2 separate regions of the Homo sapiens genome follow, and region 1 is linked to region 2. Evidence: fine-mapped expression QTL. A gene starts in region 2. The other region holds a variant in brackets. All regions are shown on one strand. Distances are between the middles of the regions.

Region 1 (5,367 bases), 54 kb after region 2:
TCCCTCTGCGCTGCTATTCTGCAGGGTTCTGGTAAGGAGAGCAGTACACGTACACGCTGGGCCAATACAGGCCCCATCAGAGGGTGCTGTGCACAGCCTGGTGCCAGTCAGGGCACAAAGACACCCACGGAAGAGGCAGTCCCTCTCTTCCTCCCAGGCTGCACCCTAGAATGCTAAGACTCCAGAGTGGACCCCCCAGAGCCATGTATACTTCCACCGGGAACTCCAAGGCACCTTCAGCCCAACCAGACCAAAATAAGCCCCTACATCAGTGCACGGTGCCACCATCCTCCCAGGCCCTCCAGCCAGAACCCCAGGAGCTGAAACCCTTGACTCCTCTCTCACCCCTAAATCCAGTTCAAGAGTAAGTCTTTGGGCTGTGTATACTTCCAGAACACCCCAGTGTTGGTCCACACATCTGTCTTCAGCATCTGCCCCTCTAGTCCTGGGCCCTGGCCACTCCCCAAGTGCCCTCTGGCTCCTTTGCCTCCGACGTCCAGGCTCTCCTGGCAGCCAGAGGCACCACCTCCTTTTTTTTCTTTTTTTGAGACGGAGTCTCACTTTGTCACCGGGGCTGGAGTGCAGTGGCACAATCTTGGCTCACTGCAACTTCCACCTCCCGGGTTCAAGTGATTCTCCTGCCTCAGCCTCCTGAGTAGCTGGGATTATAGGCGCCCACCACCACGAGCAGACACGGGGTTTCACCATGTTGGCCAGGCTAGTCTGGAACTCCTGACCTCAAGTGATCCACCCGCCTCGGCCTCCCAACGTGTTGGGATTACAGGCATGAGCCATCGTGCCCAGCCTCCAAAACTTTTTTATCACCCCACATAGAAACTCCGTACCCACTAAACAATAATGCCCACTCCCCTTGTCGCCCAGCCCTGGTAACTTATAATCTACTTTCTGTCTCCATGGATTTACCTATTCTAGACATTTCATACAAATGGAGTCACAGGCTATGTGGCCTTTTTTTTTTTTTTTTTCCCAGTTAGATGGGGGTCTCACTCTGTTGCCCAGGCTGGAGTGCCGTGGCCCAATCTCGGCTCACTGTAACCTCCACCTCCCAGGCTCAAGTGATTCTCCCATCTCAGCCTCCTGAGTAGCTGGGACTATAGTCACATGACTCCTCTAAATGAACTCCTGGCTAACTTTTGTATTTTTTGTAGAGGCAGGATTTCGTCATGTTGCCTAGGCTGGCCTCAAACTCCTGGACTCAAGTGATCTGCCCATCTTGGCCTCGTAAAGTGCTGGGATTACGGCTGTGAGCCACCATTCCTGGCCTTATTTTGTGTCCAGCTTCTCTCACTCAGCGCCACGTTTCCAAGGCTCACCTACGTTCTAGCCTGGATCCGAGCTTCATTCCGTTTTATGGCTGCGTAGTATTCCACTGCATGGGTGGAGCACGTTTTCTTTATCCAGTCATCGGTAATGGACATGCGGGCTGTTGCACAGAAGGATCCTTTTTATTTTCTCCCTAGCTTTGCTGAGGCATCATTGACAAATAGAAATTACATCTATTTAAGGTTACATGATATTTTGATATCCATTATGTGTTGTGAAGTGATTACCACAACCAAGCTAACAACACATCCAACACCTCACCTAGACACCTTTCTGGTGTGTGTGGTGAGAACACTTGAGTCTAATTCCTCAGCAAGTTTCAAGAAAACAGTATGCTATAATAATTATTATTATTTTGAGACGGAGTCTCGCTCTGTCACCCATGCTGGAGTGCAGTGGCGCAATCTTGGCTCACTGCAACTTCTCCCTCCCAGTTCAAGCAATTCTCGTGCCTCAGCCTCCTAAGTGGCCGGGGCTACGGGTGGGCACCACCGTGCCTGGTTAATTTTTGTATTTTTAGTAGAGATGGAGTCTCATGTTGCCCAGGCTGGTCTCAAACTCTTGAGCTCAAGCAATCTGCCTGCCTCGGCCTCCCAAAGTGCTGCGATTATAGGTATGAGCCGCCACACCTGGCCTGCTATTATTAATTATAGTCACCATGCTGTACCTTAGGTCTCTGGAACTTTTTTCTTTTAGAGATGAGGTCTTGCTCTGTTGCCCAGGCTGGAGTGCAGTGGCACCATCAAAGCTCACTGTAGCCTCGAACTCCTGGGCTCAAGAGATCCTCCCACCTCAGCCTTC[C/T]GTGTAGCTGGAATTACAGGTGTGTGCCACCATGCTTGGCTGATTTTAAATTTTTTTGTGGAGACAGGGTCTTGCTATGTTGTTCAGGCTGGCCTTGCACTCCTGGCGTCAAGCGATGCTCCCGCCTTGGCCTCCCAAAGTGCTGGGATTACAGGCACAAGCCATTCTGCCTGGTTAAAACGTGTTTATCTGAAAGCTGAAAGCTTGTACCCTTTGACCTACATCCCCCGCCTTCCCCTGTGCCCTCACCACCATAACCACTGCTCTACTCTGCTTCTACGAGTTCAATTCTTTTTTAGATTCCACAGATAAGTGAGGTCATGCACTATTTGTCTTTCTGTGTCTGGCTTATTTCACTTAGCATAATGTCCTCCAGGTTCATCCATTCCAGAGGGGTGTTTTAAAAGACAATCTTGGCCGGGCGCAGTGGCTCACGCCTGTAATCCCAGCACTTTGGGAGGCCGAGGAGGGCAGATCACCTGAGGTCAGGAGTTCAAGACCAGCCTGGCCAACATGGTGAAACCCCATCTCTATTAAAAATACAAAAATTAGCCAGGTGTGATGGCGGGGACCTGTAATCTCAGCTACTCGGGAGGCTGAGGTAGGAGAATTGCTTGAACCTGGGAGGCAGAGGTTGCGGTGAGCCAAGATCACGCCACCGACTCTAGCCTGGCCGACAGAGCAAGACTCCGTCTCAAAACAAAAACAAAAACAAAAGACAATGTTGAGTGGTGGGTCTTCTGCTTTAACCCCTCCAACACCTCTGACTCCCGCCTTGTCTCCCTCCAGCCATGCGGGTTCCCACCCTCCAGCCTCAGCCTGTCCCCATCTGTGTCCCTCAGACTCAGAGGTGTCCTCCCCAGAGACGCAGACATGGGCCTCTGCCACCCTGTATTACAGTGCCCTGCAGTCACCGCCTGCCTGTGCATCCCTTGCCATGCTGTGACCTCTTGTGTCTCTGTTTTCTTCTTGGTAAAACGGGGATACCTCAGAGGGCAGCTGTGCAACAGGACAAATTCACACACGAGACACTCGGGATGCTCCTGGCACACAGACAGGGTGAAGCATCCCTTGTCCCCATTGTCACCTTCTCTATTAGCTCGGGCTGCCATAACAAAGTGCCATAGACTGCGCGGCTTACACAGCAGAAATTTACTTCCTCCTAGTTCTGGAGGCCAGAAGGCCAAGATCAAGGTGCCAGCGAATTCAGTTTCTGTGGAAATTCTCTTCCGCCTTCTCACTATATCCTCACAGGGCCTCTTCTCTAGACATGCATAAAGGGAGACAGATCCCTGCTGTCTCTCTCTTTTTTTTTTTTTTTCTGAGACAAGGTCTGGCTCTCTTGCTCAGGCTGGAGTGCAGTGGCACAATCCCGGCTCATTGCAGTCTCAACCTCCCAGGCTCATGGGATCCTCCCGCCTCAGCCTCCTGAGTAGCTGGGGCTACAGGTGCGTGCTCCTGTGCCCAGCTACTTTTTCGATTTTTTTTGTAGAGATGGGGTCTCGCTATGTCGCCCAGGCTGGTCTTGAGCTCCTGGCCTCAAGCGATCTTCCTGCCTTGGCCTCCCAAAGTGCTGGGATTACAGGCATGAGCCACAAGCGCCGGCCTCTCTCTTCTTATTGGGATACCAGTCCTCTGAGAGTAGGGGGCCCCACCCTTAAGATCTCATTTAACCTTAACTACCTCCCTCAAGGGCCTACCTCCAAATACACTCACGCTGGGAGTCAGGGCTTCAACCTCTGCATTTGGGAGGGAGGTGGGAAGATACAATTTAGTCCATAACCTCATCCATCCCATCCCTGCTCCATACTTTTACTTGACCACTCCTAGAGTTCCTTTATTTTATTTTATTTATTTATTTATTTTTTGAGACGGAGTTTCACTCTGTCGCTCAGGCTGGAGTGCAGTGGCGCGATCTCGGCTCACTGCAACCTCCACCTCCCAGGTTCAAGCAATTCTCCTGCCTCAGCCTCCTGAGTAGCTAGGATTACAGTCACACGCCACCACGCCTGCCTAATTTTTGTATTTTTAGTAGAGATGACGTTTTGCCATGTTGGTCAGGCTGGTCTTGAACTCCCAACCTCAGGTGATCCACCTGCCTTGGTCTCCCAAAGTGTTGGGATTACAGGCGTGAGCCACTGCTCCCGGCCTTTTCTTTGTTTTGTTTTGAGACGGAGTCTTGCTCTGTCGCCCAGGCTGGAATGCATTGGCGTGATCTTGGCTCACTGCAACCTCCGCCTCAAGTGATTCAAGAACCTCGAGTGATTCTCCTGCCTCAGCCTCCTGAGTAGCTGAGATTACAGTCACAGGCCACCACACCTGGCTAATTTTCGTATTTTTAGTAGAGACGGGGTTTCGCCATATTGGTCAGGCTGCTCTCGAACTCCCAACCTCAGATGATCCACGCGCCTCGGCCTCCCAAAGTGCTGAGATTACAGGCGTGAGCCACCGTGCCCAGCCTTCTAGATTTTCTTTCTACTCCCAGAAGAATGGAAACTCCTGAGGCTGGAACTTGGTTTCCCCGACTCCTGTCTCCTGGTTCCCTGAACACACAGTGGGTCCCCAAGCAAAAACTTACTGAAGACAGGGGAGTGACTAAGGACGGCAGTGAGGATAGCTGGAGATGGGGCGTCTGCCCTGTGACCTGGGGGACCACGCCTGACCCCCACAGGCAGGGTGCCATTGCCTTAGGGGTACAGACAGAGTTCCCCAGGAGCACGACGCCCTCTCCCCAGAGTGGCTCCCCTAGGAAGCTCCAGACACCCCCAGGAACCAGCCTCAGCTTGGCAGGTGGTGGGTGTCCCCCGGGAGACCCAGGCCTGACCATCCCTGAGGCCTCTGGAGGGGGAGGATTGAAATATGGCCCCCCGCCCCCACCGCCAAAAAAAAAAAAAAAAAAAAAACTCAGGCTGGGCACAGTGCACAGTGGCTCACACCTACAACCCCAGTACTTTGGGAGGCCAAGGTGGGAGGATCACTTGAGCCCTGGAGTTTGAGACCAGCCTGAGCAACATAGTGAGACCCCATCTCCACAAAAAACACAAAAATTAGCCGAGCACGGTGGCACGTGCCTATAGTCCCAGCTACTGGGAAGGCTGAAGGGGGAGGGTTGCTTGAGCCCAGGAGGTTGAGGCTGCAGTGAGCTCTGATTGCACCATTGCATTCTAGCCTGGGCAAGAGAGTGGGACCCCATGTCAAAAATACAAAAGATATGTTGAAGTC
Region 2 (5,367 bases):
CCTACCCAAAGCACATCCACATCTCACTCTATCAGCTCCAAGCTAGTCCAGGCGACCAGCTTTGAGGGCAAAACACCTACCTGCCCCCGAGAGGCACTAGTTAGCATATCCTGGCTTCACAGGCCCCCAGATCACCACCTCCTCGGCTGCTGCCTTTTCTCTTTCAACCACCAAGTAGAAAAATGGCCTAATGGAGTACTTCTTCCTGAAAGCAGGACTTGCCTGTTAGTGGTGCCAAGGCTCCCTAGGTGACCTTAGATTTTGGATTTGTACAGGCCTTGACTTGAAAGGTCTTTTGCGTTTTGTGGCTCCTGTCTTCTCATCTGTGAGATGAGAGCCATGCCCACCTTTAAGTCACACAGATTAATAAGTACATCTACGGAAGCACCTTGGAAAAGATGTACAGGAGGCTGTGACCTCCAAGCTCCAGCCGACTGTTTGAAGCTGGAGCCCGTCACAGCTCAGCCCAATCCACCCACCCCCCAGACTAGGTCAGACCATCAAAAGCAACGGGAGCTTGGCACTGATTATCCAGCTATATTAAAAAAAAAAAAGAAGAAGACGGGGCACGGTGGCTCACGCCTGTAATCCCAGCACTTTGGGAGGCCAAGGCGGGTGGATCACTTGAGGTCAGGAGTTCGAGACCAACCTGGCTAACATGGTGAAACGCTGCCTCCACTAAAAATACTAAAATTAGCTGGGCGTGGTGACAGGCGCCTGTAGTCCCAGCTACTCGGGAGGCTGAGGCAGAAGAATCGCTTGAACTCGGGAGGTGGAGGTTGCAGTGAGCCGAGATCGTGCCATTGCACTCCAGCCTGGGCAACAGAGTGAGACTGTCTCAAAAAAAAAAAAAAAAAAAAGAAGAGGAAGAAGAAGAAAGAAAAAGTGACAGAAAAATTGCTGCAGTAACTCAGCTGGAAACGGGTGGGCAAACCTGGAGAACTAGCTAATGCCTGCCTGGCTATGCCACCCCTCGGATCTCAGTGTGTTTATCCAAGCCCACAGAGAAAGGTGGGGAAGGGGAGCTGGGGAGACAAAGTTCCCCTCAAAGACGGTAGCATCCTTTCCCAGGGAGAGCTCAAGCATAGGGGGGTTGGGCCCCAACGAAGGAGAGAAACCAGGTTCCAGGGTATGTGCATTGGGGCAGAAAAGCGGCAGCAACTGGTGGGCGTGGGGTTATTGAAATATTGGCAGGTTGGGGAGGGGACTGGTGGGACACAAATGGGAAGATGGGGTTGAGAGAGGTCCTGAAAAGGGGTTGAGGGGTTTTCACAGGAAAAAAAGGTTACTGGAGGGGAGGGTCTTCACGGCAAGGAGAGAGGAGCTTGGGTGAGAGGTCTCCATAGGGAAAATAGGAGATGGCTGGGATTTCCCCCGGGGAAAATGGGAAGGGGCTGGATATTGGGGGTCTCCAGAGGGAAAATGGGAGGTGTGAGTATCTCACTACAGGAAAGAGGGAATAAGTGGGCAAAAATGGGTGGGTGGTTGAAGCGGGGGTCTTGCCACAGGGAAACCACGGTGGCTGAAGATCTCCGTGGGTTAAGAAATGGAGGCCGAGAAGGTCTCCCCATGAAAACGGGTACCTAGGAAGAGCTCCAGAGAAAAAAGATGGATGAGGTTCCCCACGCGGGAAATGGGGCTTGGAGGGGGTTAATCTCTATGGGGAGGTCGGGGCGGGCAGTGGGGGAAGAGGCCACTGGGAGGTCCGAGTTAGCTGGCGGGGGGTCTCCACCCGGGAGGTCAAGGCGGGCAGTGGGGGAGGAGGTCACGGGGAGGTCCGTGTTGGCTGGTGGCGGGGGGTCTCCACCGGGAGATCCGGTTGACTGGCGGGCTGGGGGAGATCGGGGTTGGCGGAAGGGGGACGAGGGGTTTCATGGGGGAGATCAAGTTGGCCATGGGAGCGGTTCTCTGAGGGGAGGCCGGGGTCGGCCCGGGGGTGGGGGTCCCCGCACAGGCCCAGCCTCACCGTCCGCCAGGGCTTCACTGCACTCGAAGCTGATCTCGAACCGGAAGGGGCTGTGGAAAGGGCTCGGGTTCTCCAGGACCGCCACGTTCAGCACCGACACCTTGGCCATCGCCTCGCCTCGCCGCGCCGCAGCAGGGGCAGGGGCTGTGGCTGTGGCGGAGGCCGCGCCTGGGTCCGGTGGGGTCAGTGGGGTAGGGCTGACCAGGTCCACTCCCGCCTCTTCTCTCCGAGAACTGAAGTGCGCACCTAGTCCGCGCGCCGCCTTCAAATAGCCGGCCTCCGCCCTCTGGCCAATCACCGCCAACGCTCCCTGGCGGCGCGCGCACCCCCTCAGCCAGTCCTGGAGCGCCGATCGGCGCGCGCCCAGACTCCTCGGACCAATCAGCGGAGCTCCCTCTCCGCAGCGTGTGAGGAGGGCGAAACTATCTCCAAGCTTCTTAGCGTGTCCGCTGGAAACCAATCCCCAGCGTCTCCGACTTGGATGTCAACGGCGGGAATGGACGGAGTCACAGCGCCGGCCTCCTTCTGGCCAATCCTGAGGGTTCCCGCACCGGCGTGGCCCGCCCCTCGCCTCGCTTTTCCGGGAGATGCATCCCGCAGCGCGCAGCGCCGCCACCCGCCGAGCGGTGGCGCGCGGCGCTCGCTAAAGAAGGCGGGAAGGGCGGTGCTCGCACCCGAAGTGATTGGCAGGAGGGAGTGGGGCGGAGATAAAGAGGGTTTTCTGAGAGTTTATTGGCTGGATTGGTAATGGTGGCGGGAGCAGAAGGAGGCTCAGCTGGGGATTCGCTGGAGAGAAGCGGAAGTCGAGCGCCACCGCGGTGTTGGCGAGTGTGAAGAGAGAGGAGGAGCGTTTGCGGCCTCAGCGTCTGTCAACAGGTGAGCGTTTCCTGGAGCTTTTCTGAGTGGCTCCTGACCCTTGAGGTCCAGCGGCGCGGGAGTCCGTTGTGAACGTTGCGAACGTTCGGAGTGGCGGTCACGAGGCGCGCTCAGACCTCGGGAATCCGGCCGGGTTCGGATCCCGCTTTCGCCCCCGAGGGGTTCGGATCCCGCTCTCGCCCCCGAGGGGTTCGGATCCCGCTCTCGCCCCCGAGGGGTTCGGATCCCGCTCTCGCCCCCGAGGGGTTTGGATCCCTCTCTCGCCCCCTTGAGGGCTCTTGGGAGGTTTCAAGCGGACGGTACTGAAAATGGGAGTTCCAGTTCGGGGGCAGACCAGTGTTCAGAGTCCGGGCTCTGCTACTCAGCGCCCGAGGCAGCGCCTCCCCATTCAACGGGGGCCGTGGCAATTCCCTGACATGATTCATGACCACATAATACATCCGGAAACTTCTCTCCACCGCCTCCCGTCTGGGCCGTCGCCCCCGGCCTGGGAGACTCCAGGTCTCAGAGTCTCTGCCCCCACGGGCGATCAGTGCTGCCCAGTGGAAAAATAATGCCAGCCGCGCACCAAAATTAGGTGTAAAATTAACATTTTTTGGAAGCCACTTTTTTTTTTTTGAGATGGAATCTCGCGCTGTCACTCAGGCTGGAGTGCAATGGCGCGATCTCGGCTCACTGCAACCTCTACCTCCCGGGTTCAAGCGATTCTCCTGCCTCAGCCTCCTGAGTAGCTGGGATTACAGGTGCCCACCACCACAACCAGCTAATTTTTTTTCTGTATTTTCAGTAGAGACGGGGTTTCACCATGTTGGCCAGGCTGGTCTCGAACTCCTGACCTCAAGTGATCCGCCCGCCTCGGCCTTCCAGAGTGCTGGGATTACAGGCGTGAGCCACTGTGCCCGGCCATATCTTTTTTTATTATTATTTGTAATTTTAGAGGCTGGTCATGGAGGATTTCTTGAGGCCAGGAGTTCAAGATCAGCCTGGGCAACATAACAAGACCTCATATCTACAAAAAATAAAAGAATAAGCCAGGTGTGGTAGTGCATACCTGTAGTGTCTGCTACTCCTGAAGCTGAGGCAGGAGGATCTCTTGAGCCCAGAATGCTCCAGCCACTGCACTCCAGCCTGAGTGTCAGAGTGAGACCCTGTCTCTAAAAATTAAAATTAAATTTTAAAAAAGAAAGTTCAGTTTAGCTGTCTTGATAGCCGCAGTTGAGTGCTCCTGAGCCCGTGTGACAAGTGGCTCCTGTATTACTGGACAGCGAAGGTCAGAAACACATTTGACCAGGTCACTTCTCCGGATGAGAGCATTGTCTTTGAAACTCTATGCTTTGTCTCCTGTTAACCACCCAGCTCCAACTTCAAACCAGGCTAAGTAACCCTCTTTTTGTTAAAATTCTGACAAGCCACTCCCAGTGCAAAGCCTCTGCCCAGAACCTCTTCTCCTAGGCTCTTGGCATGGCTTATGCCTTCTTGTCATTCAAGTCTCTGTTCAAATGTCCTCTCCCCAGAGAGGCCTTTCTAAGGGTGCTCTGGACAGTGTTCAAACTCACAGGCCGTACGCCTGAACAGCACTGAGCCAAGGCACTAGTATTTCTTACCCAGTCACCTCTGTGGGCTCACTAGGACTCACTCACTGTGCTAGTATGTTTTCCTTTTCCTTTTCTTTTTAAACAATCCAGTTCCTGTGGGATTTTTTTTTTTTAATAGAGGTCTGTTGCCCAGGCTGGAGTGCAAGTGGCATAATCGTGGCTCACTATAACCTGGAACTCTTGGGCTCAAGTGATCCTCCCACCTCAGCCTCCCGAGTGGCTGGGATCACCAGTGCGTGCCACCATGCCTAATTTGTTTTATTTTATTTTATTTTTTTTTTGAGAGGGAGTCTTGCTCTGTCACTCAGGCTGGAATGCAGTGGCGCAATCTCAGCTCACTGCAACCTCCTGCTTCCAGCTTCAAGCGATTCTCCCACCTCAGCCTCCCGAGTAGCTGGGACTACAGGCACACGCTACCTTACCCAGCTAATTTTTGTATTTTTAGTAAAGATGGGGTTTCACTATGTTGGCCAGGCTGGTCTCAAACTCCTGACCTCAGGTGATCCACTCACCTCGGCCGCCCAAAGTGCTGAGATTACAGGCATGAGCCACCGTGCCCTGCCTCTTATACTTTTTAAATTTTTTGTAGAGACAGGGTCTCGCTGTTGCCCAGGCTGGTCTTGAAACTCCTGGCCTCAAGCAGTCCACCTATCTTGTCCTTAAGTGCTGGGATTACAGCGCCTAGCCCATTTTTGGTATCTACATCTCACATTAAGTTAAGAAAAATTCTTTTTAGCTGTTAAAAAATCGAAAGCTTTGTTTTTATTCTTTTGAAATTATTTGGCTTCAAGGAAACTCACATTTATGATTCGCTTGATTTCTTGGCAATCATTGCATACTTAGGGATATTTGTGATTTGAGAAAATCTAATTTCCAAATGTAATTCGATTGCTTATGAATACTAAATTTAATGATTAATGCAGTTGTCAT

The links.
Region 1: its variant is fine-mapped to the expression of ASF1B in whole blood (INTERVAL, PIP 0.91).

The regions. Positions count from the first base shown.
Region 1 is chr19:14,188,246-14,193,612 of GRCh38, forward strand. The region is part of intron 1 of ADGRL1 (adhesion G protein-coupled receptor L1); the gene reads right to left. Among named protein-coding and RNA genes, the nearest start is that of ADGRL1, 15 kb to the right of the region's middle. The variant C/T (reference allele first, on the strand shown) is at 2,146.
Region 2 is chr19:14,134,382-14,139,748 of GRCh38, forward strand. ASF1B (anti-silencing function 1B histone chaperone) reads right to left here and starts at 2,208. Exons shown (of 4, transcript NM_018154.3): 1 at 1,967-2,208. The coding sequence starts at 2,075. ADGRL1-AS1 (ADGRL1 antisense RNA 1) reads left to right here and starts at 2,771. Exons shown (of 3, transcript NR_045214.1): 1 at 2,771-2,842. RefSeq lists a silencer at 1,974-2,023 and enhancers at 2,354-2,493, 2,571-3,197, 2,694-2,853.